Linked DNA regions of Homo sapiens: all the other regions are linked to region 1. Evidence: fine-mapped expression QTL. A gene starts in region 1. Each other region holds a variant in brackets. All regions are shown on one strand. Distances are from middle to middle. Region 1 holds the start of KLF11 (KLF transcription factor 11). Region 2 has its middle 22 kb from the start of KLF11-DT. Region 3 holds the start of CYS1 (cystin 1).

Region 1 (9,732 bases):
CAGGGGGCAGGCGGAGGGAGGGCTCCCTGGGGCAGGACCAACATCACAGCTCCCTGAGGCACAGCAGGTCCCACGAACACAGGTTGAGGCGCTGGAGCAGCCTGAGCTAGGATGGGTCTCACAGTCCCCACAGACAACTGGGGAGGGGGCTTCAAAAAAGCTGGTAACATGCTACTTTGTCCAGTCACAGGGATCATCTGGCAAAGGACAGGGGGAGCAGGGACAGAGACAGAAATCAGAGGGGTGGTTTTCCTGGGCAGGTCATTTTCATAATTCTTTGGTGAGCAAGTCTGAACTGCACCAGGCCACCCTGCCTGCTGGCCTTTGTCAGTGAGCAGCAGGCCACCAGACTTGTGCAAGCAGGGCTGACAGGACACCAAGTTAGTGCTGAGTAAACTGTCCGTGAGGTGTGTGTCCTGCAAAGTTTCAAAGTGTCCCAGAAGCTGCTCTTCTCCTTCTCTGCTGTCAGAAAGCCGGCAATCTGGAGTCTGGATGGTGGGAAAGCAGGCAGCAGGGCTCTCCCCAGTGTGTCGGATCACGCTAGTCCCCTTGGCCCTGCAGGGAGAGCTGGGCACTGGCTCCAAACCCAGCAAGCCCCTCTCCGCGCCCCCGCTCAGAGCTCTGGCCACTACGGCAGAGGACTGGAGAACATCCGTGGCTGTACATGCTTTGGAATCTGTTACTTGGGGAGAAACAGGTGTCCTTGTCGATGGCTCCACGAGATCAGGGCTCTGAGGAGGAGTTATGCACTAAAAAAAAAAGTACCATGTTAAAAGGTTGCTTTAAATTTTAAAAGGGATTTAATTCATCACAATGCTCCCAATACCTTTACACAGAATCATCTAGACACTCAGTTAACCCTGTTTTCAACATCCCAGTGGGTTTCAAGGCTGCATGAGGCACTCTGCTTTCTCAGCTTATTCCCAACGTGTTTACCTCTCCCAAACCTACACAAGAGCCCAGTGCAGGGAACTCTGAGAGGAGCTCCTGGCCGCCAGGCCCACCACTTCTGCAACCCTCCCGACAACCCACAGGCCCTTCCTATCCCTCTCCAAATCTGCTTTCTACACTCTTCTTTCAGAGCAAGCTTCCAGCCCAGGACAATCACAATTTCCACTTCTGTTAGCAACCTACAGTTCTCAGCTTCTCCAAGCTGAGATGCAATTTTTCCAAGTACTTTCACAGATGTAGCAAATTAAAAAAACAAAAAGCAAGAGTGACTTACTGCACCCAACTCACAGAACTCACATTAAGGAGTCGGCTGCCACGGGAGGGCAGAGGTGCCACCCAACGAAGGCAATCTGATGTCAAAGTACATGCTTTCTCCAGCTGCTACCGATATATTCTGACACTAGGCTGGAGAACCTAAGCTCCACCCCGAGATTCCCCTGGGGAAGTAAATTTCACTTTCTCACATTAATCTGTAGGTTTCATCCCACGGACATTAACCACGTAGCTAGCAAGGTATGATCCATCCATAGAAAGAGCACATTTTTCAGAAATGAAAGAAAAGTTTCTTTTTTTGTTCTTTTATTTTTTTTTGAGATGGGGTCTCGCGCTCTGTTGCCCAGGCTGGAGTGCAGTGGCACGATCTCGGCTCACTGCAACCTCCGCCTCCCGGGTTCAAGCGATTCTCCTACCTCAGACTCCTGAATAGCTGGGACTACAGGCGCCCGCCACCACACCCGGATAAATTTTGTACTTTTAGTAGAGATGAGGTTTCACCATGTTGGTCTGGCTGGTCTCGAACTCCTGACCTTGTGATCTGCCTGCCTGGCCCTCCCAAAGTGCTGGGATTACAGGCTTGAGCCACCATGCCTGGCCAAAGGAAGAGTTTCTACTCCTTCAGACCCACACAGAGAGGATACGCAACTTATTTGCCAGCATCCCAGGGAATCTTCTCACAAGTTCTTCAACACACTGAGTTCAGCTACTCTAGTCATTTCACAAAAACGCTCCTCCCTCCCACCTCCTCTTACCAGAGTCGATAAAGAATGGAAGTCTTTTGGTAGTTCAGGTGTGGCTGCATCCATATGCACAGTGGTGGTGACATCCCCAGAGTCAGAGACAGGCGTGAGGGGTCTTATCCGCAACAGGTCACCTTTCTGGGATCTTTGACCCCAGGAGCTCATACAAACAAGAGCCTCGACAGCTTCCATGTCTGTCTGCTCCAAGATGCTGCAAGTAGACCTTTCGCTGTCATGCCGCTTCCTCTCCAGGATGGACTCACATATGTCCATGATGTCAACCTAAAGGCGACACAACACAACGGCTTCTCAGTGCAGGGGAAATACAGAGGCCACCCATGATGGGCATGTGGATATGCATATCAGAAGCCTACAGTAGGCATGTAATGCACATGCAATAGTCTATAGCAACAAACACCGAGGTGTAGTAAAAGACATTCAAGGAATGCTCATGACAATTCGGCTTTTAAGCCAACATTTCACAGACAGAACTAAGCTGGCAAGCGTTGCCACCAAAAATCCTGACTCTTAAAAAGGGCTACTAAGTTCATATTTTTCTTGGGTAAATGATTAATAAAATTAACTCCTGAGGTTCAAGCCAAAAAGTGGCTGGGAGGAGGAGCAGCTGCCCAGGGAGGAGGAGCCAACACTGAGGCCATCTAGTCGGTCTGCCAGTGGCCGCGGCGCCCTGACCATGGCTCTCTGAGGCGGCAAAGCCGCCAAAGCAGTGTCCCTACAGATGCTCTCAGGGACTCTGGGGCCTTCCGCCTAGGCTTCCAGCACTCCACGCAGGTAGGGCCCATGGCGATTCCACCAGTTCCCTCCACAGATTCGGGAGTGGAAGTCATCTGTTACTGTCCCAAGGCTAGCAGGTGGTGACAAGAAGCCAACCTGCCGCGAACCCGGAGAGGATCTCTTTGCAGTTTTTTTTTTCTTTTTGAGATGGAGTCTCAGTTGCCCAGGCTGGAGTGCAGTGGCACAATCTCGGCTCACTGCAGTGCCCGCCACCACACTTGGGTAATTTTTGTATTTTTAGTAGAAAGAGAGTTTTGCTATGTTGGTCAAGCTGGCCTTGAACTGACCTCCCGGGTTCAAGCGATTCTCCTGCCTCAGCCTCCAGAGTAGCTGGGAGGCGTCCGCCACCACGCCCAGAAAATTTCGTATTTTTAGTAGAGACGGGGTTTCACCATGTTGGCCAGGCTGGTCTCCAACTCCTGACCTCAGGCGATCCACCCGCCTTGACCTCCCCAAGTGCTGGGATTACAGGCGCCCGGCCTTGTTTTTTTGAGACAGAGTCTTGCTCTGTTGCCCAGGCTGGAGTGCAGTGGCACCATCTCGGCTCACCACAACTTCTGCCTCCCAGGTTCAAGCGACTCTCCTGCCTCAGCCTCCCCAGTAGCTGGGATTACAGGCGCCCACCACCATGCTCAGCTGATTTTTGTATTTTTAGTAGAGAGCGGTTTTCCCCATGTTGGTCAAGCTGGTCTCGAAAGCCCGGCCTCAGGTGATCCGCCCACCTCGGTCTCCCAGAGTGCTGGGATTACAGACGTGAGCCACCGCACCAGACCCTCACCGTCTCTTTAATCTGGAGGGGAGGAGGGAAGAGGCTGGAATGAGCTGATCTCTTCCAAAAGAAAACTAAGCCGGGGGCGAGAGGGTGATATTACTCTGAGAAGAGTAATACCCCTCCCTCCCAGGGAGGTTACAGTGGGCCGAGATCGCGCGCCCACTGCACTCCGGCCTGGGCGATAGAGCGAGACTCCCTATCAAAAAAAAAAAAAAGGAAAGGAAACTTTAAATGTACGAAGATACACGTTTCCTCTCTATCTGCCATGCACCAAAGCATCAAAGCTTTCCGTCTGCCGAGGTTCCCCGAGATCAAACAAGACGAGGCCACCTCAAATCCCCGGCCTCTGTCCCGCAGGCTGCGCCACTAAACCCCCTGTGATGTCACAGAACCGGGCGCCGAGGCCGACTCACCACACGGGCGGGAAGGGGCTCGCCCGGCCCACAGTGCCCGCACACCACGAGGCCCGCGCTCTGCCCACGTCCACGGCTACCTCCCCGAAGCCCCCAGGTCGCGACGCTTAGGGCCCCCAACGCTCGCGTGCCGCGTTCCCGCCTCCAAGCGTTGCCCCGCCTCCAAGGCAGTGCGGCGCTCCCGCCTCCCGTCGTTGCCCCGGCCCCTAGACCTTGCCCGCCCCCAGGCCCGAGCGGCACTACCGCTAGCCGCTCTTAACCCGCCCGACGGCCGCGTGCCCCGCCCCCAAAACCGTGCCGCGTTCCCGCCAGCAGCTCTTGCCCCGCCCCCAAGGCCGCGTGCCGCGTTCCCGCCAGCCGCTCCCCCGCCCAACGGCCGTCCGGCTCACAGGACCGGGGTGACGTCATGGCTGGAAATAGCCGCGGGGCCAGCGGGGCGGGGCCGCCCAGGAAGCGCAAGACAAAGCTGCGCGGGGAACACGCCCCCTCCTCGCCCCCGCCGACCCGGGCGCGCCCGTCGCGGCCGCCGCCCCGCCCGGCTCCGGAGCCCGCCCAGGCCCCTACCGGCGCGGCCGCAGCGAAGCCCTGCACGCCCCACCTCCCGCATTTACAGGCGCGCGAGTGCCGCACCACTTCCCCCGCCTCGCCCCTCGCTCAGACGAGTAGTCCCGCCGCGGCAGCCCCACCACTCACTGCGCGCGCGTCGTCTGGGCCTGCGAAGTCCGGCGTGTGCATCGTGCAGGCCGGCCGGGAGCAACAAAGCGGCCGCGGGGCGTGAGCTCGGGCGCAGCAGCGGCCGCACGTGGGCTGCGGGCGGCGGCGGCGGCGGCAACCCGGAGCTCCTGCGGCCGGCACGCGCCTCGCCCGCCCGCGCGGCTCTGCCCCGGCGCGGCCCTCGCGGCGCGGGAGGGGCGGGGCGGCCGCGGAGGGAGCGGCTGGCGGGGCGGGGCGCGGAGGCGAACCAAAATACACCGCGCCCCTGCCGGGGCGGGGCCGGCCACCACCAGCCAATTCGTGCCCGGCCGGCCAATGAGCGCCGCGGGGGGCCGCGTGATCGGAGCCTGGCCGCGGCGTGATCGGGCAGGGCGGGACGCGGCACGTGTTTTGGTCGGAGCGAGGGGCGGGGCCTGAGGCCCTGGAAAGTAAGGGAAAGGTCGCAGCGGCGCCAGGGGCAAGCGGGGCGGAGGGGGCGGCGGGGGCGGAGGGGGCGGCGGGGGCGGAGGGGGCGGCGGGGCGGCGGGGGCGGCGGGGCGGAGGGGGCGGGGCGGCGGCTGGGGAAATCCCAGGGCCGGGGCCGGACTCGGTGCGGGGAGAGGGGACCACGCTTATAGGAACCTCCTGCAGCCCCACCGGCTGAATCCATCGGTAGCGGAGACCCACCTAGAGGCCTCAACCTGGCTTTTGTTTGGTTGTTTTTAACTTCTGTCATTCTCCCTTCGTCTCTTAGGAATGCGTCCTTGACCGGAGAGGTCGGAAAGCTGGCCGGTTCTAGGTGACATTCCTGCATCCGGTCATTTTTGCAGACAGCGGGAGTCAGAGCTTATTGGCCTGAGTGTCCCGCTGACGCCCCTCCTCTGGCGTCTCTGGGCCTCTTCCGCTCTGTTACGGGGTCAGGGGAAGCCGAAACGGGCAGTCACCCAGAAGGCGCCCGCTGAAACCCGCCCATTCTTCCCAGGCCCCGAGAAAACGCCGCCCCCTCCGGGAAGTCCTCGAGCCTGCAGGAGACATCTAGCCCGCTGTCCAGGGCACCTTTTTTTTTCTCCCTATATTTCGGTTGCTCGCGTCTCTTGGTGTGGTTTGCCCACGTCTGCAGCGCCAGGTTCGTGGAGAGCAGGAACCATGCTGTTTATTTTCGTCGCCGCAGCCTTCAGCTCAGCGAGGAGCCACCCCTCCTCCGTCTGTTCACTGCGCGCGCCTTTGCTGAGCTGTGATGCGGGTTGGCGCTCAGTGCAAGGGGCAGAGGCCGCAGTGAGGAATCCTCCTTTTTTAAAAGCTCCATCCAGGGAGCGGGAGCAGAGAGAGAATCCCGGCACCCCGGGGCTTTGCTCTGAGCGAGAGAATTCTGGTCTTAGGGGAACGGGCTGGGCCCCACCACTCACATGAGCAGGACTCTGGTCCCCACTTGTTCCTTCGGGGCCCACTCGGGTTGGGCAGAGGGGTTGACCAGGCTGAGGAGAGGGTGTTTGCTGAAATAGTAAGAGGGTTTAAGACGAAAGAACCGTGATAAACTGCTCGCATGAAGACCCCGGAGGCTCTGAGAGGGGCGCAGGGTGTTCTGTGTGTAAAAAGTTAAGTCTTAAGATACACACTGGAATATTCTCTTTTGCCTGGACTCCTGCATTCGCCTTATAACTGGTCTCCCTGCGTCCACTCCAGCTCCCAGAGCCTCTTCCCACTCAGCACCCCCAGGGGTCTTTAACCCTTTCAGTGGCTCCCACTGTACTCAGCGTAACGCTTCTGCTCCCCACTGTGGCTTGTGAGCTCCTGCAGGGACCCAGCCCCATGCCTCTCCCCACGCCCCGGAGGGACAGCCTGGGCCTCCTCTTGGGCGCCTGTCCCACCAGCCCCTCTGCCGTCTCCAGGTCCTCGCACTTGCTGTTCCCTAGAATGCTTTTCCCCCACATGCCCCCTTTACTCTCACCCGCAGTCCACCTGGAGAGGCCCCCTCTAGCGGACACACCCTCGGGGCCGACCTCCAGTCCCCTTCTGGCGGGCTTTCTTGTTTTCTTCCTCCACAACACTTTTCTTGAACTGCCCCTTTTCCATTACTTCAGTTATTTATCATCTGTCTCCCCACCAGAAGGACTCTCCCAAGGCCAGGGAGCCTGGCTGTTTAATAAGTCCACGTAGGTGAACGAGCGAATCGAAGGTATCCACCAGCCTCCCTGCTTGAACATCCCGTGAGCACCTCTAATTGTGTCCTTAAAAAAACTGAACTCAGGGCCGGGCGCGGTGGCTCACGCCTGTAATCCCAGCACTTTGGGAGGCCGAGGCGGGCGGATCACCTGAGGTCAGGAGTTGAAGACCAGCCCGGCCAACATGATGAAACCCCGTCTCTTCTAAAAATACAAAAATTAGCCTGGCACGGTGGCAGGCGCCTGTAATCCCAGCTACTCAGGAGACTAAGGCAGGAGAATCGCTTGAACCCAGGAGGCAGAGATTGCAGTGAGCCGAGATCGCACCACTGCACTCCAGCCTGGGCGTCAGAGACTCAGTCTCAAAAAAACAAACAAAAAACTGAACTCGGATTCCAGCCAAATCTGGATTTCTCACCTCCGTGAAGGGTACAACTGGAGACCCTGTTCCTTGATCTAGAAACCTGAGCGTCACCTTTACCTCCTCCCTTTCGCACAGTTGCTGTCTTCCGCCAATTACATGCCCTTCTTCCTTCTCAGTTCCTCTCAAACTCTTATGTCACCCACGCCAGCCCTTGTCCTGGCCACCACCTGCTCACCTGAATTGTTGCCACTGCCTCCCAACAGGTCTCCCTCCCTCCAGCCAGACGCCCTACAATCTGCCCTCACCTCACTGCCAGAATGATCTTCTGGAAGCAGAGGTGGAGCTGAACCTGTATTCAAGCCGTCAGTTGGAATCCAAACAGTTATAGGACTGACTTCAGGCTCCATGGCCAGGAACCCATGAGTCTTTGTAGCCAGGCTCCAGCCAGCACTTCCTGCATCATTTCTGACCAGTTTCCCAAATTGCTTTCCCTGCTGCCTTCCTGCCCCCACTGACCCAATACAGAACCCTGTACTCTCAAGGTCACGCCACTCTCTTCTGTTTCTAGACAGCATTCCTTCTGCGTGGAACATGCCAACCCTCGTCTGCTTTGACTTTGCAAAACTGCATGAGACCGCCGGGCGCGGTGGCTCACGCCTGTAATCCCAGCACTTCAAGAGGCCGAGGCAGACAGATCACCTGAGGTCAGGAGTTTGAGGCCAGCCTGGCCAGCATGGTGAAACCCCGTCTCTACTAAAAATACAAAAAATCAGCCAGTAATCCTAGCTACTCGGGAGGCTGAGGCAGGAGAATCGCTTGAACCCAGGAAGCAGAGGTTGCAGTGAGCCGAGGTCATGCCATTGCACTCCAGCCTGGGCTACAAGAGTGAAACTCCGTCTCAAAAAAGAAAAAAAAAAAGAAAAAAAGACTGCATATGACTCCCCAGTGAAGCCCTCCCTGATTGGCCTCTGCAGAAGGCAGCATGCCCGGGCTTTGGAGTCAGACCTGCATACAAATCCTTGTTTTGCCGGTGTGACCTTGCCAAGTCTTCTTTCCTGCAGGACAGAAGGCGGCAGCAGCTCTCCCTGAACTGGCACTCTGGCTTCTCTTGCCCCAGGGTCTGTTTCTGCTCCTTGGACAGCAGGCGCATGTGGGAACTGTGCCCTCTTCAGCCATGAGCCCCTGTTCTGCGCACATCTAGCCCATCTTCCAGATGGACAGACAGTCTGTGGTCGTCGCCAAACCCCTGAATCTGGCCCTGCCCGCAGTCAGAGGGATGGCAATTTGTAAGCTACAGACTATTGCGAATCATTCACTTGGAGACTGAACTAAGACTACTGGCACCAGGCTCCGTAGACCCTCGGGAAGAGCATGGTCTGGCAGGCAGACTGGATGTGGCCACAGATAACATCCCCTAAGGGGAGAGCGTGAGCCTGCAGGCCAGAATGCCACCACTTTCTCCTGTGTCGTTCCAGAGAGAGCCTGTGGCTATGCACGCTTGCTGCTACAGAGGGTAGTGCTGTATACCTCCTGGGCTCACTTACTGACTTTTCAGTCTAAGGGCTTATTGCAATTGGTACATAACGATCATACTTTGTAATGGTTAAGTAATATTCCATCATATGGATGTGTTGTTTATTTAACATTCTGGTTGAATAACCAAGACTTTTAGGTTTCCAGTTTTCCAGGAACATCATGCCCCTCCATCATTTGCCCACCTGGAAGGATAACTACAGGATAAGCAGCTCTTAGAACTGGAATTGCTGAGTTAACTGCTCTGTGCATTTCCTTGCTTTTTCTTGCTTTTCTTTTCTTTCTTTTATTATTTTTTTGGGTAAATTTTTATTGAACTATAGCATAGCGTAGATACAGGAAAGTGTAAAAACTTAAATGTACAATTCAATGAATTTTCGCTAGGCAAACACTGTGTCACCAGCACCCAGATTTAGAAACAGAATATTACCAGAATCCCAAAAGCCCCATGAGCTGCCGTCCAGTCACTACTTACCGTTTCCCTGATCCCCTGCATAGGATAATCCTTATCATGGCTTCTGACACTTTCGGTTGGTTTTGGATGTACTGACACTTTTTGTGTGTGTGTGACACTTTTATAATACAAAGAAAATCATACAGTATGTTCAGTTTGGGGTCTGGCTTCTTTCACTCAGTGTGTTGTTGTGGGCAGTTGGAGTTTGTTTATTCTCATTCTTCTGTTCTCTTTCTCTTTGGTTGAGTTTACTGGGCTGGAAGCAGTACAAGGACCAGAATATGCTGTGAGCTGACCAGCCACTGGGCTGGCTGGCTGGTTGACAAATGATCTAACAAATGGTTGACAAAATGGATGGATGAATGAATCACAGACCCACTAATCCACTGACCTGTTCAATGCCTGACTGGAAATTGAGTGTCCATTCCTCCCAACACCCCAGGGCCCCTGTCTCCCTTTGCTAGGGGCACTCATGATGGTGAGCAGAGAGGTCTGTAGGTGTAGCTGAGGCACAGATCATCCAGGTCAACCTGCGTATTTTAGATGGGGAAACTCAGGCCTAGCAACTTCACACAAAGC
Region 2 (10,136 bases), 22 kb after region 1:
TGACCTCAGGTGATCCGCCCGCCTCAGCCTCCCAAAGTGTTGGGATTACAGGCGTGAACCACCGCGCCCGGCCTCCTTAGAGTTTCTTATAAGCAGCGACACCAACACAGGACAGTGCACTCCTCCTCCTTCTTCCCGAGGATGCCCCACTCTGTAACAGAGTCGTTTCCAGTAAACTCGCTTCTTTCACTGTGCTCTGTGATTTGCCTTGAATTCTTTCCTATGCAAGATCCAAGAATCCTCTCGTGGGGTCTGGATCGGGAATCTCTTTTCCGGCAACAGGAGCACCCCCCTGGGAAACCATAAGCACATCTTGGGAAAGGCTATGGTTCCCACTGGGAAAGGGAGTGGAGGCTGGCACCATCCTTTCAGCTATCATGCTTAGAAAACCAGCTTTACGAAGATACAACTTATGCTCAAGAGGCTACATTCAATTAGAGTGGACAATTCAATGAGTGTTGACAGCTGTCCACACCTGTGACACTGCCACCATATTCATGGCCCAGAACACTTTCCTTTTTCTTTTTTTTTTTTTGAGACGGGGTCTTGCTCTGTCGCCCAGGCTGGAGTGCAGTAGTGCAATCTCGGCTCACTGCAAGCTCCGCCTCCTGGGTTCACGCCATTCTCCTGCCTCAGCCTCCCGAGTAGCTGGGACTACAGGCGCCCACCACCATGCCTGACTAATTTTGTTTTTGTATTTTTAGTAGAGACGGGGTTTCACCGTGTTAGCCAGGATTGATTCGATCTCCTGACCTTGTGATCCACCCGCTCGGCCTCCCAAAGTGCTGGGATTACAGGCGTGAGCCACTGCGCCCGACGTGGCCCAGAACATTTTCATCCTGTTTCTTGTGCCCCTTTGCAGTGAATTCTCCCCTGGAATTACTGACAACCACAAATCTGCTCTTTTGTCATTATAGAAGCTCATAGAAATGGAATTATACAATTTGTACTCTTCTGTGTCTGTTTATTCTTTTTCTGGGGGGGGGGGGGGCGGCGTTGCCCAGCATCATGTTTTTGAGATGAATCCATGTTGATGGATGTACCAGTAATTCTGTCTTTCTTGTTTTATGTTTATGTGGTTTTGCTGAATAGTACTGTAGGGATGTACCACAGTTGTTTTTTTGTTTTTTGGGTTTTCTTTTAATCAGGGTCTTGCTCTGTCACCCAGGCTTGATTGCAGTGGCATACAACGTCCAGGCTCAAGCGATCCTCCCACCTCAGCCTCTCAAGTAGCTGGGACTACAGGTGCATGCCACCATGCCCGGCTAATTTTTGTGTGTGCATAGAGATGGGGTCTCACTATGTTGTCAGGGCTGGTCTCAAACTCCTGGGCTCAAGCAATCCTCCTGCCTTGGCCTCCCAATGTGCTGGGGTTACAGGCGTCACCCACTGCGCCCAGTGCATTCACTCTAGGGCTGTTTTGTTAAACCAGGGGCCTGGTAAGCAGGGGCTCCTCTAACACTCCCATGGGCCCATGAGCCACCCTCATTGTTACCTGCCTGATGCTGCGTTTGTTTATCCATTCATCTGTTTGTGCACACTTGGGTTGCTTCCAGTTTTTGATGTTTAGGAATAAAGCTGCCATGAAGATTCACATTCAAGTTTTTGTGTGGACATGTGCTTTCATTTCTCTTGGGTAAAACGTAGGCGCGGAATTGCTGGGCCATTCTTAATTTTAGAAGAAGCCACCACAGTGTTGTTTCACAGCAGCTCCACCATCTTGCACTCCCGATGGCGGCGTGCAAGAGCCTCGGCTGCCCCACTCCTCCCCAGCACATGACGTTGCTGCACCAGGGTGTCATTTTCACTGTCCTAGGGGGGCCGAAGTGGCTTATGATTGTGGGTTTCATTTGTATTTGCCTGATGACTAATGAAGTGCGATGATTTTCGCATGCTGTTTTGGCCTTCTGTATGCAGTATCTTCCTCTGTGAAGTGTCTGATGGATTCTTTTGCCAATTTGTTTTTGTTGGGTTGTTCATCGGGATCATGTTTTTAATGGCAAACGTCAAAGCCAGCCCATATGTGTTCCCATGACACCCCTGTCATGTTTATGCGTGCACTCAAGCGCACGTGCGTGCACCCACATACCAATTCTCTTTTTTTTTTTTTGTTTTTTTCGAGACGGAGTCTCGCTCTGTCACCCAGTCTAGAGTGCAGTGGCTCATTCTCAGCTCACTGCAACCTCCGCCTCCCGGGTTCAAGGGATTCTCCTGCCTCAGCCTCTGAATAGCTGAGATTACAGCCATGCACCATCACGTCCGACTAATTTTTTATTTGTAGTAGAGACAGGGTTTCACCACATTGGCCAGACTGGTCTCGAACTCCTGACCTCAAGTGATCTGCCCACCTCGGCCTCCCAAAGTGCTAGGATTATAGCTGTGAGCCACTGCATCCAGCCCAATTCTCTTTAATAATGTAAAGTCGGAGGACAACAGGACACTGACTTTCATTTCACCTGCGTTTCAACTGTCCCATGAAAGCTCCGTGCCTGGGTGGCATTTACAGTGCTTTCACCTGCCTCATCGCATTAATCCAAACATCAGTGCTGTGAAGGGTGAGATGGCAAATGAGGAAACTGAGGCCCAAGGGGAAGAAGTGACTTGCTAAAGGCTACACAGCTTGAGAGGCAGATTGGACTTGAACCCAGGTTTGTCCGACTCTGAATCCAGTGCCGTTTGTTCACTGCCCAACAGCAGCCTGGGAACAGAACTACAATAAAATATACGTTTAAGAATAGAGCAACAGCAGCAGCAGCCCCACACTGTGACTACACTGAGTGCCTGGCTCTGAGGTCCTCACCCAGACCCTGTGTCTCGATACCCAGGGACAGAGCCGGGCCTGGAAGAGTCCTCCCTTTCACGGTGGGGGACCCTGGGACCAGGCAACCAAGGTCACAAAGTCTGTAGAAGCCCGAGTGTCTAAGCCTTAGAACCCCGATCCCAATGAGACCTTTGCTGGGGTCTCACCATCAGGGCTCTTGAAATTCAAAGCCACACCCTCTCAGCATCCGCCGAGATGTTAGGATGGAAAGAGGTACCCCTTGCTGCCACTTCACCCCTATGTCCCATCTATCTGCCCCAAAACCAGCCAGTTGGTGTCCCCATAACTCTGCTGCAGGACCACTCCAGCCTTCCCGAGCCTTCTGCCCTTCCTCCCGGGCCACAGCCCACAGGCCCCAGGAGCTGGTTTTGGGGGCACACGCTCTTCCAGCTCCCAGCATCTCCCCTCTCCTCCCCAAGTCTCAAGCCTCCCTGCCCCAACTCAGGATGGAGGTCCTGGACCCACAGCCAGGGAGAGCCAGGTGGGGCAGCCTGCACAGGAGGTCCGGGCACTTTCTGACTCTGGGCTCCAGAAGCCAAGGCCTCCCTCAAGGAAACAGAAAGGACTGGGGGCACAGTTCACATGATCATGAAGATAAGGGTTCCCGCAGCACACCCCATAAGAACCGTGGCACTGGCCTTTACACCCTGAGGTCCTACTTCACCCCTGGAGCCACGGCTGAGGGCAGGGCGCTGAGGGGCTGTGCCTGGGGACTTGTGCTGCTGAGACCTCCACTGGTGACACAGGGGCTCAGCACCCCTGGTGAAGCAAGCAGGGTCCCAGCAGAGAAAGGAACCTGCAGGATAGGGGTGTGGTGTGTGTGGTGTGTGTGTATGTGTGTGTGCACATGTTTACACGTGGATATGCATGTACGTGTGTTGTATAGCCAATTCCTTGCAATAAATCTCTCTATGAGACACATAAGAGATATTACATATACATGGAGGGGATGAGACAGAGAAAGGAAGGGAGGGAGGGAGAGATTTATTGTGAAAAATTGGCTCAGACAAGGTGGGGGCTGGCTGAGCAAGGTGGAAATCCATAGGGCAGGCGGCACCTGGGCCTCTCGGGCAGTAGGCGATGCTATAGTCCACAGGTAAAATCTCTCTGTCCTCAGGGAAACCCCAGCTCTGCTCTCAAGGCATTTCACTGGTTGCACAAGGCTTCCCACCCCTACCCCCGCCACATGATTGAGAGTAATGGCCTTTCACTCCAGTCAGCTGACTGCAGATGTGACATACTTACAGAACACCTTCACAGTAACCCCTAGATGACTATTTGGTTGACCCAAGAAACTATCATGCTTAGGGGCTGAGAGCTGCTGAAGTCCTGGCAGGGAGGGGTGAGGACCGGTGCTGCCGCCCTGGTGACCGGCGTTTCCAGGAGCCACCAGCCTCACCCACCATTTCCCGAGTTGGTCCCTCATCCCCTTGGCTTCCTGCGGCGGCCGAGGTGGGGTCCGGGGCTGCTGAGGTAGGGTCCAGGGCTGCTTGCTGAGCAGGGCTACCTGGTCCCCAGGGCTTCACCTGGAAGGCCTCCCACTAAGGCCCAGGACTGAGGCATCCTCAGGGCCCGTTCCACCGCCTCTGATGGAGCCTGGGGCTGAGCTGATGGGTGCTCGGACTCTACCCGACACTGCTCTTGTGCAGTGGCCGTCAGGGCTACCTGGACACAGCCTGGCTGCTGCCTCCACAGACCGCTCATGCCCAGACACGAGGGAGAGCCGCCTGTAGGTCTTCAGCTGCGAGCTCTGCCTCCAGCACTTCAACGGAAGGGAATGGGCCCAGGGAATAGGACGTGGGCTTGGCGCATGACTTGAAGTGCTTTCCACCCTACCAGATGCCCTGAAGATAAGAGCCGGCCCAGAACTCCGTGTCTC[C/T]GTGACAAAATGCTTCTGATCACCTAATCTGAGCGGCTGATCTCAAGTCTCTGCAGGGTTGTCACGTGTCAGGGGAGGAGAATCCAGGTGTGCTGGATCCAGCTCGCCCGCTCCTGGACAGATGGTGCACATTTCTTCTCAATCTCGTGTTCAGCCATGTCATGTTGGTAGCTTGAAATCAGCCATGATGAGAATATTTACACCACAGATGTTGACGAACACTTCACATGAGCTCCCCTCAATCCCCTGCGAGAGCTGCTTGTTAAACATTTACCTGCACACCACAGGAGAAGCCCCAGAGGATAAAGCTGGGATGGGGAGGAGGGAGGTTGGGGAGGAGGGAGGTTCAGGTATCTATTTTTTTTTTTTTTTTTTGAGACAGAGTCTCGCTCTGTCCCCAGGCTGGACTGCAGTGGCACGATCTCGGCTCACTACAAGCTCTGCCTCCTGGGTTCACACCATTTTCCTGCCTCAGCCTCACAAGTAGCTGGGACTACAGGCGTCCGCCACCACGCCCAGCTAATTTTCTGTCTTTTTAGTAGAGACGGGGTTAGCCAGGATGGTCTTGATCTTCTGACCTCATGATCCACCTGCCTTGGCCTCCCAAAGTGCTGGGATTACAGGTGTGAGCCACCGCACCCAGCCGGGTTCAGGTATCCATTACTAAGTAACAGCCCACCTCAAAACTTAGTGGCTTAGCCGGGTGCAGTGGCTCACGCCTATAATCCCAGCACTTTGGGAAGCTGAGGCGGGTGGATGGCCTGAGGTCAGGAGTTCGAGACTAGCCTGGCCAACATGGTGAAACTCCATCTCTACCAAAAATACAAAAATTAGCCAGGCTTGTGGTGGTGGGTGCCTGTAATCCCAGCTACCTGGGAGGCTGAGGCAGAAGAATGGTTTGAACCCAGGAGGCGGAGGTTGCAGTGAGCCGAGATCGCGCCACTGCACTCCAGCCTGGGTGACAGAGCGAGACTCTGTCTCAAAAAAAAAAAAACTTAGTGGCTTAAGATGACGGTGATTGATTCCTCCTCACGAGTGTGCGTGTCACTGGGGTGGTTCTGCTGCTGCATGTGGTATTGAGGAAGGTCACTCTTGCAGCTGCGTGCATGGCTTTTCCCTCCAGTAGGATGGCCTGAGCTCTCCACAGCGTGGCAGCTTCCCAGAGACCAGGAAGCTGCCAGGCCTCCCCCACATTCTATCCGCCAAATGGGTCTCAAGGCCTGTCCAGATCTGGTGTGGGAGGGAACTACAGAAGATCATCAATAGCAGGGGATTCACTGGGGCCCATCAAGGCAGCAGTCTTCCAGCTGGGTGGGCTGGCTCATCCCTGGAATCCCAGGATTTAAGGAGGCCAAGGTTGGAGGACCACTCGAGGCCAGGAGTTTGAGACCAGCCTGGCAACATAGCGATGACAGCCTGTCTCTACAAAAAATTAAAAAATTAGCCAAGCATGGTGGGGCATGCCTGCAGTCCCAGCTACTCAGGAGGTGGGAGGATTGCTTGAGCCCAGGAGGTTGGGGCTGTAGTGAGCTATGATTGCACCGCTGCACTCCAGCTTGAGTGACAGAGTGAGACCCTGTCCCCCAACACCCCCGCCCCCCCAAAAAATAGGCCCCGCAGTGTGGCCTGGTGAACTTGGCCTCCTTGAATGTGTCCTATATAAAGGTGTGTGTTGAGCTTCCCCTTGGGGCAAGGCACAAGCCCCTCGCCCACCCACGTGGTCTAACTGGACGCTCACAGCAGCCTCGAGAGGCGGTCCTGCCCGTCCCGGTTTCCAGGTGGAGCAGCTGAGGAAAGCCTGAGACGCTTGCCCCAGGTCTCCCGGGTTCTCAGCGGCCACCCGTTGTCCTGGGAGGTTGAGAATTCCTGTTCTAGGTGCCCCTTTGCTGGGACACAGCATCTCTAAAGGGGGAGACAGCCATCTTGAGGTCCTCCCTGTATTATGAGAAGAGGAAGCTCTCGCTGAAGAAAGGGAAGGCAGATCCTTCCTCCCCCAAGTCCACATCGTTTTCCTTCCTCTTAGGAGGTCTGCCTCTAGCTCTTATCTCCCCACTCCCCACGTGCACAGAGTCGCAGGGTGAGGGCTGAGCTGTGACGCCAGTGAGGCCAAGATGTCAGCCTAGGGTTGAGGACCCTGGCTGGGCGGGTCCTGCTGGGAGCTGAGGCTGCAAGACCCCGGCTTGGCCGTACCCCGAGAAGCAGCCACTGCACTGACATGGACGAACTGTGCCGTGTGGAACCCACTTGCCCCACCTAGATCTCAGCTTCCCTGCCGCCAAGCGAGAAAACAGAACTGACAGGTCTCTGATGGCCATCTCATCTCCATGCCAGGTGTTCTAGAAAGAGTTCAGAGACCCAAGTGTCCATCCACACTTGTCCACGTCTTGGTTCCAGGAGTGTCTGTCAGGGATGTTCCCCCTGACCCTGGATATTCCTTCTCCTCTGTGAAAGTACGGTCACGTATGGTGCAAGTATGGGCATGTGTGATGCAAGGGACGCTGCTGGGCAGCTGCCTGTGCAGGCACCGGGGACAGGAAGGTGGATAGGGCATAATTTGTGGGGGAAAAGGCATGTAAACATGTATTACAACATAAGAGAGTACGTGTAGCGGGAATGTAAATTTGTACAACCTTCTAGAAAAGTCATTTGGCAATACAGATCAGGAACTTCCCAGATGTTCCCAAATATCTTCGGAAACAATTATCCCATTTCTGGGAATCTAACTTAAGAGAGTAACCAGAACAAGGGAGAACAAGATGCTTATTGCAGGATTAGTTAGAACTTGAAAATAACCTAAATGCCCAACAACAGAGAATCAGTTAATTGGATTATGTCACAGACAGTTAATATTTCACAGCTGTTAAAAATAGCTGCTACAAAGAATTTTCATAAAATGGTTTTTGAAATAACATTAACTGAAAAATGCAAAACAGAATTGAGGAGATGGAGCTCCACTTGGGAAAAAATAAGATAATTCAGAGAGAAGGAATTTACCAGAATACCAACAGCGATCACATTTGGGTAATAAATGACTTTAGAGGTGATTTTAAAATTATTTTGTTTCTCAATCATCTTTAAAAGCCCAGTGCAAAGAAATTTGCTGGCCAGGCACAGTGGCTCATGCCTGTAATCCCAGCACTTTGGGAGGTTGAGGCGGGCAGATCATCTGAGGTCAGGAGTTTGAGACCAGCCTGGCCAACATGGTAAAACCCTGTCTCTACCAAAAATACAAAAATTAGTCAGGTGTGATGGCATGTGTCTTTAGTCCCAACTACTTGGGAGGCTAAGGCAGGAGACTTGCTTGAACCCGGGAGGTGGAGGTTGCAGTGAGCCAAGATCACACCACTGCACTCCAGCCTGAGTGACAGAGTGAGACTGTCTCAAAAAAATTTTTCCTTCATGAAGTCTTTTACAGTTCCTCTAGGCAGAAGTGATCTGTCACTCTTTGATGCCTGGGACATTTGTGCCTCTCTTGTGGCATCTACCCTCTGTGCTGTGCTCATATGTCTGTGTCTTCACCCAGCTGAACCCCTTAGTGATATGGCTGTGCACATGTTTGGGTCCTAGTGTTTAACTCCAGGCCTGCCCACACTGTGCACCTATTGGCCATCTAGATGTGCACTTGGGTTCTGGCTGGCTCCTATACCCGTGGTTCTCTTTTACTTTTGAAGACTCCTTTTAATGTTAATATTTTTTCGTGGTAGCTATACCATCTATCAGTGGAAAATACTCAATGACAAAAGACACCTTGTCTTTGTCCCATGAATTCAACAGGGCTTCTTTTTTTGAGAAGGAGAGTCACTCTGTCACCCAGGCTGGAGTGCAGTGGCGCAATCTCAGCTCACTGCAACCTCCGCCTCCCTGGTTCAAACGATTCTCGTGCCTCAGCCTCCCGAGTAGCTGGGATTATAGGCACACACCACCATGCCCGGGTGATTTTTGTATTTTTAGTAGAGATGGGGTATTACCATGTTGGCCAGGCTGTTCTTGAACTCCTAACATCAGGTGATCCACCCACCTCGGTCTCCCAAAGTGCTGGGATTACAAGGGTGAACCACCATGCCCGGCTTCAACAGGGTTTCTTATGGGCTAGTTTTTCTCCAGTTACGACTCAAATTTTCTTGCTTTATTACATGTCTAATAATTTTTGATTGGATGCTGGACATTATGATACAACATTGTTGGGAATCTGAATTTTGTTGTTTTCTTTCAAAGATTAGTGAATTTTGTTTTGGCAATGAGTTAAATTATTGGTAGATGTTTTGCTCCTCAAGGCTTGTTTGTGGGCTCGTTGGGACAGGTCTAGAGCAGCCGTTACCCCAGGGTTAGTGTAGTACACCTGAGGCATGTGCTTTTCAAAAGGACAGAGATCAGGGCAGTGGTTACCAGGGGCTGGAGTGGAGGGAGGAAAGGATGACCAAAGGGCACAGAGAACATTGGGCAGTAGAAATGTTTTCTATCTTGATTGTGGTGGTGATTACATGACTGTATGCATGTGTCATAGAGTTGTACACCTAAAAATGGAGAATTTCACTGTATGTAAATGATACCTGAATAAATCTAACTTTTTTAAAAAAGGGTGGTTTTTCTGAGGTCTTGGCTGAATGTCTGGCATATTCGGTGTGGTCTCTTCACTCTGGCTGCCCAGAACTCCAAGGTCTCTGTGCCCGTGCATCCTCTGGCACCCCCTTCTGCTCCCAGCTCCCAGCAGCTCTCCTCTGCCAGACTTTGCCGTCTCATCCTGTGCACGTGCAGTTTAGTATTCACTCAAAGACTCAAGAGAGCTCCTCTGCAAACGTCTGAAGCTCCTTCCCTGCTCAACCCGCTCCTCTCTGGAACCCCACAAGTTCCAGTCCCCTCGGTGGTCCTGAACTCCAGTCTCTGCCTGCTCCGGCCCATGCCATCACCACTCTCTGAGCTCTACTTCCCTGTGCTGTGTTCAGAAAATGCCCCAAACACCTCCGGGCAGAGAGCCAGGGTGAAGCTGGAACTCCCTCATGTGTGTCCTTCTCTAGGGTCACAGCCCTGCCATGGCACCTATGCTTAAAAACAGTTGCTTCATATAATTTGTCTAGTTTTCTAGTTGTTTATGGGGGAAAGGTAAGTCTGCTATCTGTCACCGTCTTATGGCCGGACCCAGCAGTCCCAGCAGAGCTGTGGGAATTTAAAGTTGGTTTCACTCCTCCCACCTCATCTCCATAAGCTCTATGCTCAAGCGGCTCGAGCGATCCCCAGAGTAGCCATCCCATGCTTGGAGTGCCTGCTCTGGACTCTGTGCGCCCCTGACTCCTAGAACATTGACACCCACCCTCCCTCCTCCTACTCACCCTGCAGCTTCCACTTGGACTCCAGGAAGTCTTCCCTGGCCCTTATGCTGGGCCCAGGAGGGTCTGTGTGTGCCCGTAGCTCCCAGGCATCCCCGTAACCACTTATCGG
Region 3 (10,013 bases), 32 kb before region 1:
TCCCCAGGCTCCGGCTCGCACCCCCGTCCTCCGGCCGCGACCCCCGCCCGGGAACCCTAGCCCCTGGCCGCGGTCGCTTCCCGGACCTCGCCCCGCGCCTCCCCCTGCAGCCCGCCCCGGCCGCACCCCCTAGCGTCCCCGCCCCCGGCCGCGCCCCCTCATGGGGGCCCCCTCGGCGGTCCGGGAGGCGGCGGGCGCGCCATGGGCAGCGGCAGCAGCCGGAGCAGCCGGACTCTGAGGCGGCGGCGCAGCCCCGAGAGCCTCCCCGCGGGGCCCGGAGCGGCAGCCCTGGAGGGCGGGACCCGCCGGCGGGTGCCGGTGGCGGCGGCCGAGGTCCCGGGGGCAGCCGCGGAGGAGGCGCCCGGCCGCGACCCCAGCCCCGTGGCGCCCCCCGACGGCAGGGACGAGACGCTGCGCCTGCTGGACGAGCTGCTGGCCGAGTCGGCGGCCTGGGGCCCCCCGGAGCCCGCCCCGCGCCGCCCAGCCCGGCTCCGACCCACCGCGGTCGCGGGGAGCGCGGTGAGTGTGGGAGCCGCAGGGCCTCGGGGGACGGCGGGGACCCCACTCACCGGCCGCGCGTCCCCGCCCCAGCCCTGGGCGCCGGTCGCGCTGCGCCCCCTTCCAGCCTCCGACTTGCGTGCTCCCCGCTGCCCCGGCCTCCCCGCCCCTGGGCCCCCAGGTTTCCTCCCTCTCTGCCCCGTCTCCGGGTCTGTGTCCAGGCGTGGGGGCGATCGCGCTGGGAGCGGCCGAGGAAGGACACCCCTAGGCGGAGCGCGCCGGGCTCCCGGCTCCCCTCGGGCCCGCGGCCCCGCCTGGCCTTCCCGGGCCGCCCTGGAGCGGGGCGCCGGCGGTGGTGGCACGGCAGCCAGACGGTGGCTCAGAAGCGCCCTGCCGCGCCCACCGGTCCAGATCCTTGCCTTGCTGGGCAGGCAATTCTCATGTTACTGATATTTTTAGGATGCTGCGGAATCTCTTTTGCGCTTCCTATTCTCTCTCCCTGAATACTCGTAATAACAGTCCTGCTGTTCTAAAAAAACAATAAAACAAGCACTCTGGTTTGGCAACCGTCTTCGCTCCAGCAGAGCTGAATGAACAAGATCTTTAACATCCGCTCCCGGGCTCGGGGAGGATGCCAAGGGCCTCGTCCTCCTCCCTGAGGCCCGGGAGGCTTTGCTTAGCAGCCGCTGGGAGCCGAGGAAGATGCCTTCCTGGGTGGCTACCGCACCAAGGAATCCTGAAAAGGCCCCAGGGAGGGTGGGGGAGAGGGACAGCCCCAGGCGACAGTGCACAGAGCTCTCTCCCTCTGGCCCTGGTTCCCTGCTCCTCTCCCTTACGGTCTTTAAAGAGGAAAAGCGAGCTGCAGTGAGTAGGGCTGAATTATATAACAAGATTCCTTTAATACCACATCAGCCTGCAGTTATATAACACTGCCTGGACAAATAGCTGAGAAATTTGGGAGGAATTCACACATAGCAAGGAGGCAGTTAATTTTAGTGTTCATTTTCAAGTGCTTTGGAAACTCGGAGGTGAAAATGAGAGGCAAATAGCAAGAGTGAATGTTGTGCCCTCTGATTTGCTGATATTATTCATCATGGTGACTGCTCGCTCTTTAAGTCATTTTCCAGCTATCCTTTGAGCACCGGTCCCGCTGTGGGTGCTAGGGATGAGGCCACACAGCATAGCCCTTGCCTTAAAGAAGTCTGCAGCTCGATGGGGGAAAGTAGAAAGCAGGGCGATGAGAGATCCGTATCAAAAGGCCACAGGAGAAAGCGGCTAATCCCAAGGGAGGCAGGTAGGCATTCCCGAAGGGATGAATTTGGAAGTTGTCCTGAATCTGGAAGGGTCTGTGGACGTGATCCAGGCAGCAAGTTCTGTGCAGAGAGAACCTCATGCCTAATGTCACTGGTGGCTGGGGCAGCTGGTGCCCAGGGCATGGGTCAGAGAGGTCTTAGGAGAGTATGCCAGGCTGCAGTGCGCCATGCCAAGGGTATTCCATGTTAGCGAGTTTGGGTTACTATGAAAGTTCTGGGTATCTGAAAGGTAAGGATTGTGACAGTTTGTGTTTTAGGAACGTCACACCGACAACTGTAGGGAGGATGAACTGGACAGAGTCAGACTAGGGATAACATGACCACCTGTGTGAGTGGGTGGGGGAGTCTGCAATGATCCAGGTGGCCGAGTCCTGAACCAAGGCAGTGGCGGTGAGAGGCTTGCAGAGGAGATGGTTTCAGGAATTGTTGAGGAGGTCAGCCAGCTGCAGTTGCCCTTCTGGGTGTGAACTGTGTGTATCTTTTTTCTTTCTTTCTTTTTTTTTTTTTTGAAACGGAGTTTCACTCTGTTGCCCAGGCTAGAGTCCAGTGGTGTGATCCCGGCTCACTGCAACCTGTGCCTCCCAGGTTCAAGCGATTCTCTTGCCTCAGCCTTCTGAGTATCTGGGATTACAGGTGCCTGCCACCACGCCCAATTTTTGTATTTTTAGAAGAGACGGGGTTTTGCCATGATGGCCAGGCTGGTTTCAAACTCCTGACCTCAGGTGACCCGCCCACCTTGGTCTCCGAAAGTGCTGGGATTATAGGCATGAGCCACCTCACCCAGCCGACTGTATGTATTTTCTGCACCATAAATATTTCTTGAATAAATGAATCCTAGAATCACAGATTATTCGAGGCGGAAGGGAGCCCTTGGGTCCAATTCATTATTTTCAGATAACGCCTGCATACTACAGATGTGCGCCACCACGGCCAGCTAATTTTTGTATTTTTAGCAGAAACAGGGTTTCACCATGTTGGCCAGGCTGGTCTTGAACTCCTGACCTCAGGTGATTCACCCGCCTTGACTTCCCAAAGTGCTGGGATTACAGGTGTGAGCCACTGCACCCGGCCAATAACACTACTTTTAGTTTCTTTAGGAAGAAAGGAGGAAAAGAAACCTTTAATAGCTTCATAACTGTCTAGCATTTTGGAGGAGAGACATATTCTTCATAAAAGAACATCAAACTCAAGTGAAAGTTATTCTTTTAAGCACTCACATTTAAAAATTTTGACCACTGTTGACTGGGAATGTCTTAGAGATGGTCTGTTTATCCCTGAATCATCATTCTGAATATTATGTTTTGTTTTTGTTTTTGTTTTTTGAGACAGAGTCTCGCTGGAGTGAAGAAAGGGGGAGTGAGGTGGCAGGCACAGAAGCTGGGGTTGTGCTGGGGGAGGGGAGCTTCTGCAGTCATCCAAGTGAGATGTGGGGTCATTTGGACCAGGTTGGCGGGCGGTGGTGAGGGGCGGTTGGCTTATGGACTCACTAGTGGGGTGACTGGGATGTGTGAGAAAGAAAGGAATCAAAGGTGAACCAGGAGTTCTTGGCCAGAGCAGCTGGAGGGATGTAGCTGCCGTGAACAGACACAGAAAATGTGGAAGGGGCAGGTTTGGGGTGTCATTAACCAGGAAGTTGGTTTTCAGTATGTTAAATTTGAGATGCCTGTCAGACATCCAAACAGAAATGTCAAGTGAGTAGATCTTTGTAAGAGTTTGGCATTCAGGGGAGAGGTCAGGTTTGGAGTTCGTTTAGAAGCCATTAGAACATGGGAGGATTTAAACCCATGAGATTAGATGGGATCACCAGTGACGATGCTGCCAGCGTGTGCTTAGGAAGCATGGATGGGCACCGGGCTCTGTCCTGGGAGCTTCGTGTATGTGAACTAACGTGGGACGAGGCCAGGGGTTGAGCACGCTGTTCAAAGGTTGAGGAGATAGAGGCATCCTAAAGAACAGCCAGTAAAGGGGAGAAAACCAAGAGAACATCCGGAAGCCAAGGGAGGAAGGTGCTTAGGACGGAGGGCGTGCTCAGCTGCTGGAAGTGCTGCTTGGTGGGATATATGCGGGAAGCCTGAGAGCTGGTGGTTGAATTGAGCCACTCGGGAGGTCTCAAGGTCCTTGGTGAGAGATGGGTCAGAGAGTGGTGGGAGGCGCCTTGGGCTGGAGTTCATGGAGAATAGGACACAAGGAG[G/T]GCGGTGCAGTCAGCTCTTGTAGGAAGGCTCTTTTTACAGCGCAGCAGTAGTGGATGGCGGTAGGGATGGTGCTGCTGGACCTGGAATTCACCAGAAAATCTTAGTCCCAGAATGGGCTGGATAAGAGGAGGTTTTGAGCATTAGATGCCCTCGTGAAATTTGAAGGAACCCTTGGAGAAGAAATTTTGGTTTAATCAAGTAGACATAGATTCAGTATTTTAATTTTAATTTTTATTTTATTTTTGAGATGGAATCTTGGTCTGTCGCCCAGGCTGGAGTGCATCGGCTCACTGCAACCTCTGCCTCCAGGATTCAAGCAATTCTCCTGTCTCAGCATCCCGAGTAGCTGGGACTATAGGAGCATGCCACCACGCCTGGCTAATTTTTTTGTATTTTTAGTAGAGATGGGGTTTCACTATATTAGTCAGGCTGTTCTTGAACTCCTGACCTCAGGTGGTCCCCCTGCCTTGGCCTCCCAAAGTGCTGGGATTACAGGTGTAAGTCACTGTGCCTAGCCAGATTCAGTATTTTTATTAGCAGGTGGTAATTCAGATTGTTTTCCTCCCTCTGCCTATAAACCTGGGTCACTCAAGGTCAAGGGAAGTACGTTATCTGAGAATTTTTCTGTTTTGCAAGAGAGTCTCGGGCAATAGTGTCCTCTCCTTAGGCTGAGGGACTCTGTCATCCACCATTTTTGGAAAGGTTCCATTTGCTGTAGCCATGGAGCATCCGGATAATTCTTTCTTGCCTGTTACCCCAGCCAGGACTTTACAGTAATCTTGGCATGCAGCTGCTATGGAACTCACGGTGTAAAGAGAGCAGTCACAGTGAGTGCCTGGCGGGACAGCACCTCCACAGAAGGACGTCAAGGTGATGGGTAACTTAATGGACTTGCAGCAAAACAAAGTCACTGTCCTGAAGACGGTGACTATCTGCCTGCGTTCAAGTCTGTAGCAAAGAACACAAATTTAAATGGCAATGAGTGATATTTCAATTGATCCAGGGGACAAGAAGAAAGGATGGTGCGGACCCCCAAAAAGCTCATAACCGTGTTGGGAAGGGGTGCGTAAATGCACGTTTGCAAGTTCCCGTGGAAGCATGTTGTAAAGGCATGCTCCAGTGCGTCTGCACACGTGGAGGCGTGGGAATCCCACCCGAGGCAGAAGTCTTCCAGTGGATCTGGTGTCTGAGTTGGTTCTAAAGGATCACTAATGTGTTCCAGCGGTTGACAAAGGGTGGAGCTTTCCATAAAGAGGAAACAATGTGTAGAAAACTCCAGAGGTCCAGAAGCGATTTTTTTTTTTTTTTGAGATGGAGTCTCACTCTATCTTGCCCAGGCTGGAGTGCAGTGGCGCATTCTCGGCTCACTGCAGCCTCCGCCTCCCGGGTTCCAGCAATTCTCCTGTCTCAGCCTCCTGAGTAGCTGGGACTACAGGCATGTGCCACCATGCCCAGGTAATTTTTGTATTTTTAGTAGAGACGGGGTTTCGCCATGTTGGCCAGGCTGGTCTCAAACTTCTGACCTCAAGTGATCCATCCGCCTCAGCCTCCCAAAGTGCTGGGATTATAGGCATGAGCGACCGCACCTGGCCCAGAAGTGCTTTTGAACAGCCTGGAGTTTATGTGCCATTCAGCCAGGTGATGTCGGAGAGCAGAAACCAATGAGACGGGTTTGGGTCACATTTTCACAGGATTCCAAGCTAAGAGGTTGAACTGTCCTGTAGGCAGTGGGGAGCTAGGCGAAGTTTTCTGTGTTTCATTATTTTTAAATGTTTATTTTAAAAATTAGAAGAGGTAATACACAGGCACATGAGGGGACATTGAAAACATGCATTGCAAAGAAAATTTCCCTTCCTCCCAACTCTTTCCCCAGCTCCCCTCTCCAGAGACAAGCAGCTTCTCAGTTTCTTGTGTGTCTTCCCAGCCTGTGTAATAGAAGGATCCACAGTGGCGGGGGAGGTTGTACTGGGGGAGACTGCATGGGGGCAGGAGCCCAGGTAAGGGAGGAATCCAGGTGAGAGGTGGAGGAGGAGGTGAGGTGAGCCACTGAGTTTGACAAGCAAGGGAAAGTGAGTTTCTAGAAAGACTCCAAGATTCCCTGCTTGTGTAGTTGAGAAGATTCAGAATGCTATTAACAGGATGGGCCTAGTTTTGTACAAGTTGAGTTTTGAGTCCTAGGTGGATAATTTCCGTGGGCTGTCCGAAATTCCTGTCAACTGCGAAAAGTGGTTGGAGCTGGAGCTGTCATTTCGTGGACATCAGCATTTGGATAGTGGCTGATGCCATACCAGAGTACAGTTGCTGAGGGAGAGCGTGTGGATGGGTGGGGAAGGATGCCAAGCCTGGAACATGAACATCAAAAACTGAAGGAAGAATTGTCCTCTCTGGAGTTCTATAAAAAGAGTAGGATTAAAAGATGTTAGAAGCCCAGTGCCTCGACCCGGGGGAGGAGCGGGCAGCCTCAGAGGCTCTCTCCCTTCATGGTCCCTGGCTGCTGGCTGCTGTAGGTGATTAGAAGCCTGGTTGCATCACGGTCAGGGGTACAGCCTCACATTTCCTGCCCTGCTGAGAGGCTGTGGTGGCTGCTGCTGAGTACTGGGCACGGCAGGGTGTAGAAATGCCGTGGAAAGGAGGATGTCGGCTCATGCACTCTTCGAGAGATGCTGACCAAGAGCTCTTAACCTTGGAGCTTTGAGTCCCATAGGGCTGGGGCAGACCCTAACTAGACTCTGGGAAGGAGGGTCAGAGCAGTGGTTTGTGCACAACACAGGCCCTTCTGCCCCTAAATGCCGTGAGCCCATTACCCAGCAGGGAAAGCAGCCCCCTGCCCAAGGCCACCCATTCCGATTCCCACCAAGCTCTGTTTCTTGATAGTATATGGCCAGACAGCTGTCATTTCTTTCTATTGCTGAAATCCGAGATGACTTGAGCTTAAGGGACCTCACAGATGGTTCAGTCCCACCTTCTTATTTACATCGGAGGACTTTGGGGCCCAGCAAGGAGTGGGAGGGTGCCTGTTTGCAGGTCAGGCCAACCGCAATCCACACCCTGTTAGCACGGACAAGTCTCTCAGACCCTGAGTCCAGTGACAGCCTCTCTGGGTCTCCCTTGCCTTTTTCCCTGTGGCTTTGGAAACACCTCCTTCAAGGCAAGGCCTTCCCAGTGGAGACGGGCCCTGGACTGGCAGCCCACAGCCGGGGGGGGGGGGGGGGCGGTTCCCAGAGCCCCTTGTCACGTCCTTGTCATGTTAGCCATGCAAGACAGGTCTCATCGCAGAGCCCACCTGCACCGCTGCCCCCCAGAGCCCATCTGCACCACTCCCACACAGCCAGCCTGCACCGCCCCCCCATGCAGAGCCCACCTGCACTGCTCCCACACATCTGCTCTGCTCCCACACATCTGCTCTGCTCCCACACATCTGCACTGCTCCCACACATCTGCTCTGCTCCCACACATCTGCACTGCTCCCCCGCGCAGACCCCACCTGCGCCATCCCCCCCTACGCAGAGCCCACCCGCACCACTCTCCGACTCACAGCCTGCCTGCACCGCTCCCCCACCGCTCCTCCACCTGCACTGCTCAGCTTCTGCTGCCTGCAAAGCCCTACAGTGGAGCTTCCCCAGGGCACTGGGATCTTGGCCTCTGTGTGGGGAGAACAGTGCCCTCTGGTGGTGAGCAACAGAACGAGACTAGCAAAATTGTGAAAGCTGGGTCAGGTCCAGGAGAGCCGTTGTAGGAGTTTCTCTACTGTACATGTTCAAGTTTCCTTAAGAAAACCGAAAAGCCAAACAAACCAAACCTGGGCTTCAAAGAAGGATAATTCTGAAAGAGGAAGGGGGAAGTGTATCCATACTATGGAATAAAAGGAATGGAATTGTTCTGCCAATTACACATATAACTGGTGTATGTACATACATACATATTAAGCTGCTAAAAATTAAGAGTTAATGGAAGAACTCTTTCAGGAGAAGAAATCCACTGTATATTTTATTTTGGGTAAATATGCAGTGGATTTTCTAAAAAGTAACCTTTGGGCCGGGCACGGGCACGGTGGCTCACGCCTATAATCCCAGCACTTTGGGAGGCCGAGGCAGGCGGATCACCTGAGGTCAGGAGTTCGAGACCAACCTGGCCAACATGGTGAAACCCCAGCTCTACTAAAAATACAAAAATTAGCCAGGTGTGGTGGCGGATGCCTGTAATCCCAGCTACTCAGGAGGCTGAGGCAGGGGAATCACTTGAACCCAGGAGCAGAGGTTGCAGTGAGCTGAGATCCCACCATTGCACTCCAGCCTGGGCGACAAGAGCGAAACTCTGTCTCAAAAAAAAAAAAAGTAACCTTTGAAACTTTAATTTTCACGAAAACTTTAGTTTTAAGAGTCAAAAACTTTAAGAGATGATCTTATTCGCTTCATTCTCATATGTTTTCTGCTTCTTGTTTAGCTGTGGTTTGGTCTTTCCAAAGCCCCCCTAGAATCTCAAGGGATGACACACACCCCTCGCACGCACACAAACATACACATACAAACAGGGCGCACACACACACTGGTCCTGAACTCAGCTCAGTTCCCAGGGCCCCAGCCCAGGTGCTGCCGGTTCCCCACGTCCGTCCAGGTGTCTCAGTGATCTGCAGGTGGAGGCAGCCCCCTGGAGGAGCCCCTGTCTGCAGGAGGCTGGAGCCACCATCTGGGGCTGCTGTGTCTTTGCTTTTCATACCAGCTCCTCCTGGCTGCTTCAGCAAGCTTGTGTGTTCTGGGAGTCTCATGCTTTTTCCATCTGAGAAAGTAAGTTCAAGGCTTAAACAAATTGGCCAGATAAAGGGCCACGCAATAAAATCTCAGGCACAGAGAAAAACACAGGTGAAAACAACAGAAACAGCAAGGCTGAGCCATTGGGGAAATTGCTTCCTCCTGCGTCCGCTCTGGGGGGCCGTTCACGCACTGGATGGCATTCCATCCTTAAGGCTGCCCTGAAGCTGCAGTGTCTTCATGTTAGTGAGCAGTGCAAAGTCAGGTCCCTACGCCAGGCATTCCAAGCCCCCTGCCGCAAGGGTCCCGCTGCCCTTTCAGAAGGGCAGCAGCAGGCAGCTCAGTGTCCACCCTGACAGGCCCTGGGCTTGGCTGGATGTCCTGCCTTAGCTTTAAGAGGTTCTCAGAGCCGGGCACGGTGGCTCACGCCTGTAATCCCCGCACTTTGGGAGGCCGAGGCCGGTGGACGGCCTGAGGTCAAAAGTTCGAGACTAGCGTGGCCAACATAGTGAAACCCCGTATCTACTAAAAATACAAAAAATTAGTTGGGCGTGGTGGCGGGCACCTGTAATCCCAGCTACTCGGGAGGCTGAGGCAGGAGAATCGCTTGAACCTGGGAGGCAGAGGTTGCAGTGAGCCGAATCACGCCACTGCACTCCAGCCTGGATGACAGAGCGAGACTCCGTCTCAAAACAAAACAAACAAACAAACAAAAAGGGTTCTCAGGCTGGGCGTGGTGGCTCACCATGCCTGTAATCCCAGCACTTTTTAGGAGGCCGAGGTGGGGGGATCGCTTGAGCTCAGGAGTACAAGACCAGCCTGGGCAACATAGGGAGACTTCGTCTCTACAAAAAGTACAAGAATTAGCCTTGTGTGGTGGCATGTGCCTGTAGTTTCAGTTACTCAGGAGGCTGAGATGGGACCGTTGCTTGAGCCCAGGAGTTGAGGCTGCAGCGAGCTATGATCAGGCCACCGCACTCCAGCCTGGGCAACAGAACAAGACCCTGTCTCGAATAAATAAATAAATATGCCAGGCGCAGTGGCTCACACCTGTAATCCCAGCACTTTGGGAGGCTGAAGCGAGTGGATCACTTGAGGTCAGGAGTTCAAGACCAGCCTGGCCAACATGGCAAAACCCCACCTCTACTAAAAATACAAAAATTAGCCAGGTGTGGTGGCATACATCTGTAATCCCAGCTACTCTGGAGGCTGAGACAGGAGAATCACTTGAACCCTGGAGGCAGAGGTTGCAGTGAGCCGAG

The links.
Region 2: its variant is fine-mapped to the expression of KLF11 in sun-exposed skin (GTEx, PIP above 0.99).
Region 3: its variant is fine-mapped to the expression of KLF11 in whole blood (TOPMed, PIP above 0.99).

Annotation. Positions count from the first base shown.
Region 1 is chr2:10,038,667-10,048,398 of GRCh38, reverse strand. KLF11 (KLF transcription factor 11) reads right to left here and starts at 4,849. Exons shown (of 4, transcript NM_003597.5): 1 at 4,641-4,849; 2 at 1,980-2,249; 3 at 1-749. The coding sequence starts at 4,682. KLF11-DT (KLF11 divergent transcript) reads left to right here and starts at 4,998. Exons shown (of 3, transcript NR_135558.1): 1 at 4,998-5,089; 2 at 5,395-5,766; 3 at 6,748-6,846. RefSeq lists an enhancer at 2,193-2,932, silencers at 4,156-4,225, 4,266-4,315, 4,436-4,485, 4,776-5,005 and a promoter at 4,692-5,591.
Region 2 is chr2:10,016,475-10,026,610 of GRCh38, reverse strand. No RefSeq gene overlaps it. Among named protein-coding and RNA genes, the nearest start is that of KLF11-DT, 22 kb to the left of the region's middle. The variant C/T (reference allele first, on the strand shown) is at 4,701.
Region 3 is chr2:10,070,412-10,080,424 of GRCh38, reverse strand. It overlaps CYS1 (cystin 1), which reads left to right and starts at 14. Exons shown (of 3, transcript NM_001037160.3): 1 at 14-519. The coding sequence starts at 202. RefSeq lists silencers at 110-169, 230-469, 540-879 and an enhancer at 8,634-9,135. The variant G/T (reference allele first, on the strand shown) is at 4,003.